Regions from separate parts of the Homo sapiens genome. Here region 2 is linked to region 1. The links come from fine-mapping of genetic effects on gene expression. A gene starts in region 1. The other region holds a variant in brackets. All regions are shown on one strand. Distances are from middle to middle. Region 1 holds the start of PCHILR (prostate cancer associated HIP1 interacting lncRNA). Region 2 has its middle 27 kb from the start of PCHILR.

Evidence for each region.
Region 2: its variant is fine-mapped to the expression of PCHILR in prefrontal cortex (BrainSeq, PIP 0.95).

What each region holds. Positions count from the first base shown.
Region 1 is chr16:74,308,760-74,317,094 of GRCh38, forward strand. It overlaps PCHILR (prostate cancer associated HIP1 interacting lncRNA), which reads left to right and starts at 4,578. Exons shown (of 2, transcript NR_186416.1): 1 at 4,578-4,601; 2 at 6,387-6,881. It also overlaps the pseudogene RPL21P118.
Region 2 is chr16:74,336,486-74,344,820 of GRCh38, forward strand. It overlaps the pseudogene PDPR2P. Among named protein-coding and RNA genes, the nearest start is that of PCHILR, 27 kb to the left of the region's middle. The variant T/C (reference allele first, on the strand shown) is at 3,405.

The sequences.
Region 1 (8,335 bases):
ACCAGCCTGGCCAACATGGTAAAACCCCATCTCTACTAAAAATACAAAAATTAGCTGGGCGTGGTGGTGTGCACCTGTAATCCCAGCTACCTGGGAGGTTGAGGCAGGAGAATCGCTTGAACTGGGGATGTGGAAGTTGCAGTGAGCCGAGATTGTGCCACTGCACTCCAGCCTGGGCAACAGAGCGAGACTCTGTCTCAAAAAAAAAAAAAAAAAAAATTGCCAGAAGCAGATGAAAGACAACCACAGGTTTAAATGAAAACAAGCTGAAACAATGCAAACTTTTTATACTAGATATTCGACTTAAAAATATCTCAATGAAGGGTTAGTTTTCTCAAAAAAAAATGAAAAAGAAAACAGGAAATAGCCCTCAACTTATGGAAAAGAATGAAATCTCCCATTCACTGGGTAGTTATGCAAAGGCTTTTTCTTCTACCATTTTCCATTAAGCAGAATAAAACTTGAGAATGAGTTAGGATTGTTTGTTAGACTATAACATGCTAACAAAACCACTTTCATCTGCCCTGTCTGGGAAAATGCGGTGGATACAGGACATGTGGGAAGGCAGAGAAACATTTGATTTATATGGCCCACAAGAGAAAATGTTTACAACTTCCCTAAGCAAATGTACTGCAAATTATTACACATAATACCTGTGTACATTCCTATGCCATTCAACTCTTGGCATTACCGATTTTTGCCTGGTAGCAGTGCAAAATTGAGATCTTTTTTTAAAAACTAAAGCCTGTTTTTTGGCCAGGCACAGTGGCTCACACCTGTAATTGGGAGGCCGAGGCGGGCGGATCACACGGTTAGGAGTTCGAGACCAGCCTGGCCAATATGGAGAAACACCATCTCTACTAAAAATACAACAATTAGCTGGGCATGGTGATGGGAGCCTGTAATCCCAGCTACTCGGGAGGCTGAGGCAGGAGAATTGCTTGAACCCGGGAGGCGGAGGTTGCACTGAGCTGGAGATCGTGCCACTGCACTCCAGCCTGGGTAACAGAGCAAGACTCCATCTCAAAAAAAAAAAAGTAAAGGCTGTTTTTATTGGGGGAATAATTAAGAATTGACTCAGTATAGACATGGAAGTGAGGAAAGAAAATATGTGAAAAGAAAGGAAGAAGAAATTATGGAAGTCGTGTTTCTAGGGCCCAAATCAAGAGAAATCTTTTGCTAATCATTGCTCTTTGGAGCCAACCTGTTCTTCGACACTAGATGGCGTCATTCACTCACCTCAGCTCATCTCTTGGCAAGAGAAAAATTTGATTCCCAGTTGGGCATAGATTTGGGAATCTCCCCCAATTACTTCCTGCCATTTCTGCTTTCAGCTGAAGCCACCCAGGCAAAATTTTGAAGGAACTTGAAGAGGCTATGGGTGCAAAAAGACTGGGTTAAGCATCCACACCTCCACCCTTACTGTCCTCTTGCACACTGCTGCTGGGGGATGAATACATTAATACAAGCAGATAGTATGTGCTTCGATTTCCCTTACTGCTGGTATTACTCTTCTAATTTTTTTTTTTTCCTCGAGACTGGGTCTTGCTCTGTCTCTCACACTGGAGTGCAGCGATGCGATCACAGCTCACTGCAGCCTCAACGTCCTGGGCTCAAGCGATCCTCCTGCCTCAGCCTCCTGAGTAGCTGAGAGGGCAGGCACGAGCCACCACGCCCAGGTAATTTTTAACTTTTTTATAGAGACAGGTCTCACCTTGTTGCCCAGGCTGGTCTTGAACTCCTGGGCTCAAGCAATCCTCCTGCCTCGGCCTTCCAAAGTGCTGGGATTACAGGCATGAGCCACCGTGTGCAGCCTAATTACTTTAAGGACCATGGTCAGTGGTGTTCTGGTAAACATGTAACAATCAGTTCTCCAAAAAAGGGATGAGGAGCATTGATTTGTAAGCCTTTCCCAATTTCACTGGTATAAATACTTCCACGGTGCCTGGTTTCAAGCCAACAACCTGAGTTGGAAGGAGAGGCGCAGGAGCACAGTGCTACATAGTATTTCCACCTTACAGATAAGATAGACAAAAATAACCTGAGGAGCACACCTGATAGTAAAATGTAGTAAAGAAATTAGGGCCGGGTGCGATGGCTCACACCTGGCCTTGGGAGGCCAAGGCGGGCAGATCACCTAAGGTCAGGAGTTTGAGACCAGCCTGGCCAACATGGGGAAACTCTATCTCTACTAAAAATACAAAAAATTAGCCGGGCGAGGTGGTGGGCGCCTGTAATCCCAGCTACTTCGGAGGCTGAGGCAGGAGAATTGCTTGAACCCAGGAGGCAGAGGGTGCAGTGAGCCGAGATCATGCCACTGCACTCCAGCCTGGGCAACAGAGCAGGACTCCATGTCAAAAAAAAAAGAAAAAGAAAAAGAAAAGAAATTAGAATGCAATGTGTTGAGAGTTTTAAAAATCTTTTCTTAATGTAATCTATTTAATTGTAAGTTTATCCAATTTAATTTTTTTTTTTTTTTTTGAGATGGAGTCTCACTGTGTTGCCCAGGCTGGAGTGCAGTGGCGCGATCTCAGCTCACTGCAGGCTCCACCCCCTGGGGTTCACGCCATTCTCCTGCCTCAGCCTCCCGAGTAGCTGGGACTACAGGTGCCTGCCACCTCGCCCGGCTAATTTTTTGTATTTTTAGTAGAGATGGGGTTTCACCGTGTTAGCCAGGATGGTCTCGATCTCCTGACCTCGTGATCCGCCAGCCTCGGCCCCCCAAAGTGCTGGGATTACAGGCGTGAGCCACCGCGCCCGGCCCAATTTAATTTTTAACAATGGTTTTGTTTAGCCTCCAGCTCACAAAATTTCTGAAAATTTAACAATTGGCTTTTGCAAACCTGTGCAACCTGGCTCCAAGCCCACCCATTCCAGTCCTATTTAAATGATCACTGCCTTCATGACTGTTACTTAATCCCCAGTTGTTTTCATTTTGTACCTGTTTCTGTTTTTCTCAAGAAAACTTACCAAGACTTGGGTTCATTTAAAGTAGCCCTCTTCACACAGTGGCAGATAGTTGTAGGTGACAAATCTTTGTCAAATGCTTGGGACTTTTCCGGAAGGGGGTGGTGCTGATTGGTTGGTTGACTGATTTGTTCTCACTTACTAGGACCTCAGCTGGCCGTTCTCTAGCAGTTATTCAAAACATAGAACCAATGACAGAAGAATTCACTATGATGCTTGTTAAAAATTCATGTTTCTGGCCAGGTGTGGTGGTTCACGCCTGTAATCCCAGCTCTCTGGGAGGCCAAGGCGGGCAGATCACTTGAGGCCAGGAGTTCAAAACCAGCCTGGCCAACACAGTGAAAGCCAGTATCTACCAAAAAGTACAAACTTTTGCCGGGTGTGGTGGTGCACACCTGTAGTCCCAGCTACTCGGGAGGCTGAGGCCAGGAGAATCTACTGAACCCGGGAGGCAGAGGTTGCAGTGAGCTGAGATTGTACCACTGCACTCCAGCCTGGGCGACAGAGACCCTGTCTCAAAAAAATAATAAAAATTCAGGTTTCTGGGCCCAACCCCAGACCTACTGTGTTACAATCTCTGGGGATCTGTGTTTTTAAGATGGTCTCCATATGGTTCCTGCCCACATGAAAGTTAGAGAACATTTATTTTGATGTAGAACAATCAATTTTTTTTTTAACAGTCCAGGGGTCTGGTTTGTTTTTTGTGCCATTTTAAAATCATTTATTTATTTATTTTTCGTAGAGATGAGTCTCCCTATGTTGCCCAGGCTGGTCTTGAACTCCTGGGCTCAAGCGATCCTCCTGCTTTGGCCTCCCAAAATGCTGGGATTACAGGTGTGAGCCACCACGCTCGGCCTTTTTTTTTTTTTTTAATACCTATGAAGCCATTAATTCAAGAGGATTGGGTTCCAGCAGCTTGGGTTCGTTTTCCCTGTTCTCACAAATTGTGCTTCTCTGGCTGGAGCAGGCTGGCACTTCAGTTGAACCCAGGTACTCTCTGGCTTCCTTCTCTTTTTTTTTTTTTCTGAGATGGAGTCTCCCTCCGTCGCCCAAGCTGGAGTGCAGTGGTGCAGTCTTGGCTCACTGCAACCTTCGCCTCCCAGGTTCTAGAGATTCTCCTGCCTTAGCCTCCCAAGTAGCTGGGACTACAGGCACGCGCCACCATGCCCGGCTAAGTTTTATATTTTTAGTAGAGACGGGGTTTCACCATGTGGGCCAGGCTGGTCTCAAACTCCTGACCTCAGGTGATCTGCCCGCCTCAGCCTCCCAAAGTGCTGGGATTACAGGCGTGAGCCACCGTGCCTGGCCGTTTCCTTCTCTTTTGATCATTTTCCCTCACGTGTTTCTGAAGGCCTTCCCAGCTCTTGGAGTGCTTGGTATGCTCCATACACACACATGAATTCTCTTGGCAAGAATCATGCTGTTGTTTGTTTCCAACCATGCCAACAGCATACTAGATACATGTAGTCTCTTCCTCTTTTGCCTTGGTAACATCTGTGGGGCATTCCTTTTGCCTTGGTAACATCCGTGGGGCATCTCTTGACGTCTATAACATCTCCTTTCTTGTAGGTTCGTGTGGATGTGGCCAGAGGAACAACTCCATGTGTTCTAAAAGGCCTGAGAATATACAGCAGGTACCTCTCCTCTTTCCCCATGTTCATCATTGTGGTGACGGCAGTTCTAGTTGAAAGGACTCTCTTGGTAGATTTTGGTGCAGACAAATCTGTTAACATTTTTTCCTTATGGCCAGTACTTTCTGGATCATATTTAAGAAGTCTTTTCCCAGCTCAAAACCCCAAATATATTCTCATCATAGTGTCTTCCTTCTCTGCAGCTCTCGTGCTAAAGTCTGATCAGTGTTAACATCATTTGAGTCATCTTTTAATCAAAATAACCAGCTAGGATCCTTGGTTCATGTAGAGCCCCTATCTTCTTCATTTTCTTTGTTTTCATTTTTTTTTTTTTTTTAGACCGAGTCTTGCTCTGTCACCCAGGCTGGAGTGCAGTGGCGTGATCTCGGCTCACTAAAACCTTTGCCTCCTAGGTTCAAGCGATTCTCCTGCCTCAGCCTCTCGAGTAGCTGGGATTATAGGTGCCTGCCACCATGCCCAGCTAATTTTTGTATTTTTAGTAGAGACAAGGTTTCACCATGTTAGCCAGGCTGGTCTCAAACTCCTGACTTCAAGTGATCTGCCTGCCTCGGCCTCCCAAAGTGCTGAGATTACAGGTGTCAGCCCCCGTGTCTGGCCTCTTCCTCATTTTCTTTTTTTTTTTCTTTTTTTTTGAGACGGAGTCTCGCTCTGTCACCCAGACTGGAGTGCAATGGCATGATCTTGGCTCACTGCAACCTCCGCCTCCCAGGTTCAAGTGATTCTCCCACCTCAGCCTCCTGAGTAGCTAGGATTATAGGCGTGTGCCACCACACCTGGCTAATTTTTGTATTTTTAGTAGAGATGGGGTTTCACCATGTTGGTCAGGCTGGTCTCAAACTCCTGACCTTGTCATCTGCCCGCCTCGGCCTCCCAAAGTGCTGAGATTACAGGCGTGAGCTACTGCACCTGGCCTCTCTTCCTCATTTTCAATCCTGACTCCATCCCACCTTTTACCCCTCAGCATATAAACCCTCAGCTCCCTCCCATATTACACATGCACATCTGCACTCTGCAGCCCCCGGTATAGCCTTCCTCCATCCTTCTTTTCCCAGTTAACCTTCAGCAAATGGCTAATCTATGTCTGTTGCCTTCCTTGTCTTCCAACTGTTTCCTTAATCATCTGCAATCTGGCTTTTGCCCCCCCACCATTCCACTAAAGTCGCTCTCACTAAAGTCACCAATGGCTTCTTTGCCCATCCAGTTGGCCCTTCTGAGCCCTTATGTATTAGTCCGTTTTCACACTGCTGATAAAGACACACCCAAGACTGGGTAATTTATAAAGAAAAAGAGGATTAATGGACTCACAGTTTAAGTGCCTGGGGAGGCCTCACAATCATGGCAGAAGGCAGAAGGCAGAAGGCACGTCTTACATGGCGGAAGACAAGAGAGAACTTGTGCTTGGGAACTCTTCTTTATAAAACCATCAGATCTGGTGAAACTTATTCACTATTATGAGAACAGCATGGAAAAGACTCACCCCCATGATTCAATTGCCTCCCACTGGGTCCCTCCAGTGACATGTAGGAATTGCAGGAGCTACAGTTCAAGATGAGATTTGGATGGGGACACAACGAAACCATATTACCTTACCTCCCTGACTTGATCCCTGGCACTTCTATCATGGTACTCTTAACTGCTTCTTGGACCCTCCTGAGCTCCTTTGGCTCCATTTTCTCTAGACACTCATTTGACTCAACTGATATCTTAAAGAATCCCACATCGTTATCTGATGCCTCTGATTCCAATACTCATTCCTCTTTCTTCCAGACCCTGGCTGGTCACGCCACTACACGCCATCAGAACACAGGAGCCATACTGGCCGCCCTGCTCAGCCTCAGCCTCTGCATTCAGCCACCTGGTCCTGTGGGTCCTACCACGTGGACGCTCTCTGACACCTGCCCTTCTGCATTCCTGCTGCCCCTGCCTATGTGCAAACATTCATCTCTTTTCTGTTTTATTGCTACAGTTGCCCAACAGCTCTTTCTACCTACGTTCTCACCTTCCCCCTCCTCCCTATTCTACTCCATTGCCAGAGTTACATGGCTGGAGAAAGAACCTCAAATGTAGAGTGGCATGAATCTCACTCCTCAGTTCATGACTGCCATCATCATCATCACCATCATCAAACGTGTCCTTTGATTTTTTTTACCTGATTTCCTCTATCATTCTAACCACCCTTCCTTCCCACACACATAAGCTATAGCCACTTCAATGTGTTTAATAAATGTCCTTAGATATGGATGGATCCGCGAAGAACATGCAGCATAATGTCCTTGAACTCCTGACCTCAGGTGATCCGCCCACCTCAGCCTCCCAAAGTGCTGGGATTACAGGCGTGAGCCACCGTACCCAGCCCATGCAGCATAATGTTCTATGTGCATGTGTTTTAATTTCTATAAGTTTCCCTTTAATCTCATTCTTTCCTACCTTTTTTTAAAACTCAAAACTATGTTTTAAAGACATGTCTTCATGGCTGTATGTATAGATTCATTCAGTTCATAGCTTGTAACTGCTGGTGGCAGCAACAGTACTATGTGTTCCCAAATCCTGTTCCACATTCCTCTTTCCTGGACATACTGCAGACTACACTTGCCACCCCTTTGCTCCAGAGAAGGCCACGAGATGAGTTCTGGACAATGAAAAAATATAAGCAGGCCGGGCGCAGTGCCTCACGCCTGTAATCCCAGCACTCTGGGAGGCAAGGGTGGGTGGATCACAAGGTCAGGAGAGAGACCAGCCTGGCCAACATGGTGAAACCCCGTCTCTACTAAAAATACAAAAATTAGCTGGGAGTGGTGGTGCATGCCTGGAATCCCAGCTCCTTGGGAGGCTGAGGCAGGAGAATTGCTTGAACCAGGGAGTTAGAGGATGCAGTGAGCCGAGATCGGGCCACTGCACTCCAGCCTGATGAGAGAGTGAGACTGAGACAGTGAAAACCCTCTCCTGTCTCTCTCGCCTGGGCGATAGAGGAGGGACATGTTGAGATGGCAAGTCACACAGGGTGCAGCCTGACTGCTGAGTCCCTTTAGAGAGCAGAGATGTCCTAGAGAAACACTTGCCTTGCATTCAATTTGATGTTAGCTGGAATAAAACTTGGGTTCAGCCATTGAGATTTCAGGGCTGTTTGTCGTCATGACGTAACTCTGCCTACGCTGCTAGTCCACTAAGGTGGGGATCCACTGTAGTCATCTGCCATGGTTTAGTTACCTACCTCCTAGTGCTGGACACTTGGGTTACTTCCAGCTCTCCACCGCCACAAACAAAGCTACCACATGTCCTCATAAGGACCTGAGCAAGTTTCTGTGGAGTCCATGTCCAGGAGTTTGCAGGAACATAGAATATAGGCATAGTTCATGTCTCTAAGTACAGCCAGATTGCACACTAGAGTGGCTGCAGTCCTTTATGCTCCTACTCACAGTTCATGAGGTTACCATTTCTGAAACCACAGTATATTTTAGCAGCTTAAAGCATGGACTCAAGTCAGATGGCTTGACTTGGAATCCAAGATGTATAAACTAGTAGGTGTTCAGGCTATTTGGCCGGACGCGGTGGCTCACACCTGTAATCCTAGCACTTGGGGAGGCCGAGGCAGGGGGATCACCTGAGGTTAGGAGTTGGAGACCAGACTGGCCAACATGGTGAAACCCCATCTCTACTAAAAATACAAAAAGTTAGCCAGGATGCATGCTTGTAATCCCAGCTACTCAGAAGGCTGA
Region 2 (8,335 bases), 28 kb after region 1:
TATGCTAACTCTAATGTTCATTTTTGAGAGTCAAATGTAAAGAAGGCAAACGTGGACACATCTGCATCTGCTGGCCTTTTCGACGTGGCAGAGCCCGAACCCCCGTACCTGTGTACTTCCAGGTGACGTCCTCCAGGAGCAGGTTGCTGTCTTTCGGCATGTGTTTCTTAAGCCAGGCCCAACAGTGGACCTGCTGGTCGGTTGGAGAGATCATGAAGAAACTGAAAAGTGAGACCCCAAAATAATCAAAACCAGGTAGCAGCAAAAGGATCAGGAAGCAATCAAATCTTATTTGGTTTCAAAGCAATGAGGCAAATACTAGGAAATGATTTCTTAGCTTTCACAGAAGGCCAGTAGCACCATTCTAGGATACACCACCTAACAACAAAACAAAATTCTGGCTTCCTGTTAATGCCAAGAAATTATACAGATTTACTAACGTTAAGACATCGGCTGGGCACAGTGGCTCACGCCTGTAATCCCAGCACTTTGGAGGCCAAGGTGGGCAGATTGCTTGAGCTCAGGTGTTCAAGATCAGCCTGGGCAATGTGACAAAACCCTATCTCTACAAAATATACAAAAACTGGCTGGGTGTGGTGGCGTGTACCTGTGGTCCCAGCTACCTGGAAAGCTGAGGTGGGAGGATCACTTGAGCCCAGGAGGTCGAGGCTGCAGGGATCCATGATTGCATCACTGCACTCCAGCCTGGGTAACAAAGTGAGACCCTGTCTCAGAAAAAAAAAAAAAAAAAAAAAAAAAGACAAGGCATCTTCTCCCAGTAGGGTACATAATCTGGTGGGCTTTTTTTTCTTTTCCTCCTGGTGATTTCTTTTGTTTAGGACTGCTAATAAACTGGCTTTGATTTCATGTAATGATTCTTAGTCCCTGGGATTTATGGTTCGTGGAGAAGCGCCTGAGAGCCTCTGCTACAGTACCCCTAAGGAATCAACATGTTGGAGGAAGCAGAGCGGGACGGCAGCTCATCTCACCTGCGCTTGTTCAGTCGTGCTATGCTGCAGTCATTTTCATACCCTCCACCCTCGTTGAGCATGCCAGTATGCACAATGTGGCCCACAGGCACATCCAGGTCATTGGAGAAGAGGTACTGTAGAACTTCTAATGCCTGATCCCCAGTGGTCTGCAGGGTTAGGGAATGAAACAGAGAGAGTGAGAGTGAGAGCACCTGGCTGCGCCACATGGCCCCACCAGCAATGAACCTCATTGAGAAAATTCAATCAGCCAATTCCCATGTGACAACACTTGCAGACCTACTCCACTGCAAGAAGCTCCAGGGAATGCTAGCTATTGATTCTTATGATAAACAGGCCTCTCTAGCAAATTAAAAACCCGAAACAAGGAGCTAAAATTTCAGAAAAATGTCACAATACAGATGAAACACTAAAATATACCAGAATTCTTAAGAAATCAGTGTTTTGTTTTTGTTTTTGTTTTTTTTTTGAGATGGAGTCTCACTCTGTTGCCCAGGCTGAGTGCAGTGGCGCAATCTCAGCTCACTGCAACCTCCACCTCATGAGTTCATGCGATTCTCCTGCCTCCCGAGTAGCTGGGATTACAAGTGCCCGCCACCATGCCTGGTTAATTTTTTGTATTTTTGGTAGAGATGGTTTCGCCATGTTGGCCAGGCTGGTCTTGAACTCCTGATCTCAGGTGATCTACCCGTCTCGGCCTCCCAAACTGCTGGGATTACAGGCATGAGCCACCACTCCTGGCCTTAATTTTTGTATTTTTAGTAGAAACGGGGTTTTACCATCTTGGCCAGGCTGGTCTGGAACTCCTGACTTCAGGTGATCCACGCCCCCCTTGGCCTCCCAAAGTGCTGGGAATACAGGCATGACCCACTGCACCCAGTCAGGAATCAGTTTTGAAGATGAAAAACAAAAGGCATTCAATAAATATGCAAAGTTTCCTAATCTATTACTTTGGTTCCCAAATACTTACTGTTATCTCAAACTCTGTGAAAGAGGACATGTCAATGACACACACAGCTTCCTTACAGCACTTGACTTCAGACTCCACGATGTCAAACCAATCTGGCTTATAGAAAGTCTTGCTCTGCTCCAATGCCAGGAGGTCTACGGAATGGAAAAATCACAAGGCCCTGTAGAGTTTAGTGTAGTCCACGTGGTTCTTTTTCTTCTGTGAACACATTCTAGCCTATGCATTTGAAAATACGTTTTATTAATTCCCAGGACAAAAAAAAAAAGGAGCAAAAATGAGAATGTGACTTCTTACCCTTGTCAGGGGGAACAAAGTACTTTGGCCTCTCAAATCCATGTTTCTCCATCCACCTGGCTCCCTGTGCATCCAGCCGGTCGTAGAGAGGAGAGGTGCGTAACTGCCTACCGGTCTGGAAGTCCCAGTGGGGAACCTTCAGATCATACATCAAAGCTAGAAAAGACACGAGTAGTCTATCAAAGCCCAAGACACAGATTCTAGACCTGAGTAGCCAATATCCACTAGACTCTGGAGTTGTTTCTATTCAAAAGAGCTTTCCAGGCTAACGTAGTTTGTTTTTTTTTTTTTTTAAGACGGAGTTTTGCTCTTGTTGTCCAGGCTGGAGTGCAGTGGCACAATCTTGGCTTACTGCAACCTCCGCCTCCTGGGTTTAAGCGATTCTCCTGCCTCAGCTTCCCGAGTAGCTGGGATTACAGGCACGTGCCACCGTGCCACACTGATTTTTGTATTTTTAGTAGAGACAGGGTTTCTCCATGTTGGTCAGGCTGGTCTCAAACTCCTGACCTCAGGTGATCTGCCCGCCCCGGCCTCCCGAAGTGCTGGGATTACAGGCGTGAGCCACTCTGCTCGGCCCAATTTCCAGGCTAATGTAGTCTAATTTTCAAAATTACCCAGTGTATCAGGCATGCTCCAGAAGGAAAGACAATCCTGCCAAGCTGCTATCGTCCCTCCCTGGAGCTACGTGTCACGGCATGACTCGGCCTGTATTCACATTCAGCATTCCACATTAGTAGGTAGAAATGATGGCAGAAAGGTCAGGGTCCTAAACCTTACTAAGCTTCATAGCAGAGAACAAGGTTACTAAGTGGGACACAGGTGGTAACAAAATGTGAAAAAATGGCATTCGATTCTTCATTGTGCCTGTGTTAGGATCTCAGACCTGTTACAGACATTTCCTCCCTGATAATTAACTCACTTCTGAAGTGAAAGGGTACATATTGTAGCTTGATTAGGTGGCTCTGAAATCTGAGAAGTTACATTGTATTGTACCAATGACATTATTCACACAACAAAGCTAGGGTCAGAATTCATTTCTCTTAGGCTGGGTGTGGTGGCTCACGTCTGTAAACCCAGCACTTTGAGAGGTCAAGGTGGGCGGATCACGAGGTCAGGAGTTCGAGATCAGCCTGACCAATGTGGTGAAACCC[T/C]GTCTCTACTAAAAATACATAAATTAGCCAGGCATGGTGGCAGGCACCTGTAATCCCAGCTACACGGGAGGCTGAGGCAGGAGAATTGCTTGAACCCAGGAGGCAGAGGTTGCAGTGAGCCGAAATCACGCCACGGCACTCCAGCCTGGGCAATAGAGCAAGACTATCTCGGAAAAAAAAAAAAATTTCATTTCCCTTAATGTCTAATCTTCAACAGCAATAAGTAAAAAAAGCCAGAAGAGTGGGATCTGTGGTCCCTTGCAAAGAGAAGACCTGATCTCACACCGTCCCAAACAAAAGGCACATCAAGGCTTGGGGAGGTTGGGAGACAGGAGAAGGAAGCCAGGTGGGGTTCTCTGCATGGTGACAATCTCTCCATCTCCTGGTACTTTAGGTTCTATCTTCCCCTTCCCCATTTTCTTTTCTATTTTTTTTTTTTATTTTTTGTTGAGATGGAATCCCTCTCTATCACCCAGGCTAGAGCGCAGTGGTGCGATCTTGGCTCACTGCAACCTCCGTCTCCCGGGTTCAAGTGATTGTCCTGCCTCAGCCTGCCAAGGAGCTGGGATCACAGGCACATACCACCACGTGGCTAAATTTTTGTATTTTTAGTAGAGACAGGGTTTCGCCATGTTGGTCAGGCCAGACCTCCTGACCTCAAGTGATCCGCCTGCCTCAGCCTCCCAACATGCTGGGATTACAGGCTTGAGCCACTGCGCCTGGCGCCTTCCCCATTTTCTATGTGCCTGCCACTTCTATTTCATGAGAATTGGCTACCAAAAGTGTCATATCACCAAGCAGAAGCTCAAGCTCAATTATGATTTGTACAGGTTCCAAAGTAACTATGGGTGGGGAAATTTAGGCTTATAATAGTTCAACTTTAAAACAAAAAACTTTGATTTTTTTATTTTATTTTTTTGAGACAGGGTCTCAGTCCCACTGCCCAGGCTGGAGTACACAGTGGCACCATCATGGCTCACTGCAGCCTCAACTTCCCCAGCTCAGGTGATTCGCCTACCTCAGCCTCCCAAGTAGCTGGGACTTCAGGTGTGTGCCACTAAGGCATGGCTAATTTTTTGGTTTTGGTTTTAGTAGAGACAGGGTTTCGCTACGTTGCCTAGGCTGGTCTCAAACTCCTGACCTCAAGTGACCTACCTCCCTCAGCGTCCCAAAGTGCTGGGATTACAGACATGAGCCAGCACACCCAGCCAAGTTCAACATTTTAACCAAAATATTTGCTAAAATTAAAGAACCTTAGCAGTTAAACATATTGCTGTTAGGTCCTTCATCTCCATGGATGTACATCCTCTTCCCAGGCCAAAAGTGAGCACTCAGGCATTAAAGGCCATCCAGAGTCCTCACCAACAATGTTGTTCAACTACCAAACTAACAGTTTACTTGTAACCAAGAATGGTGGTCAGAGCCAACACAGAAACTTAGTCCTGAGCATAAGTATGCCCAAAATATTTAGATACCATTTGGCAAAGTCTGAGAACAGCTCCTCAGTACAGGAAAATGAAATTACAACTTGAACCCACGTGGTTTGGTTCAATTCCTGATACAAAAGCTTTCTAAGGGCTTCCTAGAAAATAAATCAGAGATCAAGGTAGAATAACAAATTAAGATGAAGTGGCCAGTCCTTCAAAGTTGAAGCAGGGCGAGAACACGGGAGTGAGAGCAGGAATGTATGTTTTGTATTTATATGGGAAGTGGCTCCCAATCTTGCTGCTGTAGGGTGGATTAATGGTGAAAGTCACTCACGGAAGCCTGAAGCTCTGAGAATAACTTGGCAAATTCTCTGACTTGGAAAGAAAAAACTAAGTGGGGAGTGAGAAAGCATTTTCTCAAAAACTAAGTGGGAGTGAGAAAGCATTCACTTCGACACAGGGTCTCTCAAGGCAGACTGCAGAAAGCACGCACTTCGACATACGGTCTCTCAAGGCAGACCGGGAAGAAGGCATTGCTTAGAATATTTATGAAGCTGCTATGTACCAACTGTAACTCCTATTCTACTTTCTTGTTCCCAGAAGGAAAAAAGGTCCGATGCACTAAAGAAAATGTTACATATATATCATGAGGAGCATAAAGCCCCTTAACTCAGGCCTGAAACAGTCAAATCAAATGTCCAACTCAAAGCACTTGTTAAAGAACTGAGGAAAACTTTGCTCCTTCTGAATGACAACACGGGCCACCGAGAAGATACCTGCAACTAGGAGCAACTGCGATAAAGCTTCACTTACGCATGACTTCCATGACCCGGTGGCGCAGAAAGGTGCGGCTGCTCTGGAGGGCTCCAAAACGTTTCAGGTCCAATTCCCAAACGTTTTCTGAGGGATAACCATGTACCATCCATTCGGCAAGGTACCTATATAGACAGAGGGCACTTGTTGGGGCTCAGGTGTGAGATTTGAGAAAATTAATATTCTACAAATCGAGAACTAACAGAATCAAAAGATCCTAAATTGCCATAGACCAGCTGAATAGTTTTGGGCACTTTCCTTAACTTTTCTGGAAGCAACGAACATGGGTCTGTGTACTGCTCTCAAAAGACTACTATGAGGATTTTACCCCAGATGATAAGATTCCCTAGGAGGCATTTAACATAGAAGCCAGCCAGACACATTGGCTGATGCCTGTAATCCCAGAACTTTGGGAGGCTGAGGCAGGGGATTGCTTGAAGTCAGGAGTTTGAGACCAGCCTGGACAACAAAGTAAGACCCCGTCTCTACCAAAAAAAGAAAAGTTTCAAAGTGAGCCAGGTGGCTCACACCTGTAATCCCAGCACTTTGGGAGGCTGAGGCATACGGATCACCTGAGGTCAGGAGTTCGAAACAAGCCTGACCAATGTGGAGAAACCCTGTCTCTATTAAAAATACAAAATTAGCCAGTGTGGTGGCACACGCCTGTAATCCCAGCTACTACGGAGGCTGAGGAAGGAGAACTGCTTGAACCTGGGAGGCAGAGGTTGCAGTAAGCCTAGATCACGCCATTGCACTCCAGCCAGGGCAACAAGAGCGAAACTCCATCTCAAAAAACAAAAACAAACAAACAACAACAAAAAAAAAAATTAGCCGGCGTGGTGGCACATGCCTGTAATCCCAGCTACTCGGGAGGCTGAGGCAGGAGAATCACTTGAACCCGGGAGGCAGAGGTTGCGGTGAGCCGAGATTGTGCCATTGCACTCCAGCCTGGGCAACAAGAGCAAAACTTCGTTTCAAAAAAAAAAAAAAAAAAAGAGCTGGGTATGGTGGCACATGCCTGTAGTTAGTTCTAACTCTTCTGGAGTCTGATGCGGGATGATCCCTTGAGCCCAGGAACTTGCGGCTGCAGTGAGCTATGATGGTGCCACTGCACTCCAGCCTGGGTGAGAGTAAGATCTTGTTTCAAAAAAAGTTATAAGCCTCATCTATGAAGAAATAAGACTAAAACACATATAAATATACTCTAAATATCCAATGGGTTTTTTTCTCTCACCTCAAGATTATACAGTTATGTGACCCCATCTCCTTTGCTCCAAACATTTTTGTAACTCCTCTTCTGTAATTGTTTTTAGAGCCATTCTACAAATCACTCAAGAGAACTGGTCTCATAAATTTAAAATAAGCTTTTCATCGTGGCTACCATCTTACCCATTTGTAAGTATTCAGTTCAGTGGCAGTGGGTACATTCACACTGCGGTGTAACCTTCACTACCATCCATCCTAGAACTCTTTTCCTCTTGCATTTGTGGAACTCTGTGCTCATTCAAGAATAGCTCCCCTCCCCCGCCTCTGGCAAACACCATTGTACTTTCTGTCTCTATGATCTGACAACTCTAGCAACTTCATATAAGTGGAACCACACAGTATTTGTCCTTTTGTGACTGGCTTATTTAATGTTCATTAGTGTCTTATTTTATTTTATTATTATTATTTTTATTGAGATAGAGTCTCGCTCTGTCGCCCAGGCTGGAGTGCAGTGGCGCAATCTCGGCTCACTGCAACCTCTGCCTCCCGGGTTCACGCCATTCTCCTGTCTCAACCTCCCAAGTAGCTGGGACCACAGGCGCCCGCCACAACGGCCGGCTAATTTTGTTCTTGTATTTTTAGTAGAGACGCGGTTTCACTGTGTTAGCCAGAGTGGTCTCGATCTCGTGACCTTGTGATCCGCCCACCTAGGCCTCCCAAAGTGCTGGGATTACAAGCGTGAGCCACCGCGCCCGGCCTAGTGTCTAATTTTTAAACAAAAACTTGTGGCCGGGCACGGTGGCTCATGCCTGTAATCCTAGCACTTTGGGAGGCCAAGGTGGGTGGATCACTTGAAGTCAGGAGTTCAAGACCAGCCTGGCTAACATGGTGAAACCCTGTCTCTACTAAAAATAGAAAAATTAGCCAGGTGTGCTGGCACACGCCTCTAATCCCAGCTACTCGGGAGGCTGAGGTAGGAGAACAGCCTGAACCCAGGAGGTGGAGGTTACAGTGAGCTGAGATCATGTCACTGCATTCCAGCCTGGGTGACAGAGCAAGACTGTCTAAAAAAACAAACAAAACGTGTATTACCTAGTTCAAATACCTACCTCAATCAACACACTTGGCTACCAAACTCAAATACACACTCAAATGACCAATATTTGTTACAATTGAAAAAATATAAAAGAATATCCCACAGGATCTGTGGCTAACTCCAAAAGATGAGTTGCAAAAACATTTTGCCTGATGACATTTCTGGAACATGGGGAGCCTCTCATACTTAGAAGGGGACAACTCCAAAATTACATGTATCTTCTTATTAGTCTTAACATACTAGATTAAATATACCACACGCCATGTTAATAACAAGTAATTCTAGAAGGGAAGAGACCCAGCAAGTTGACTTATGTTCACAGCTGACTTTGAGTGAGAAAGACTTACTTTCCGGCTCCTCCACCAAATGAAAGGCCAGCAGAGTTCATT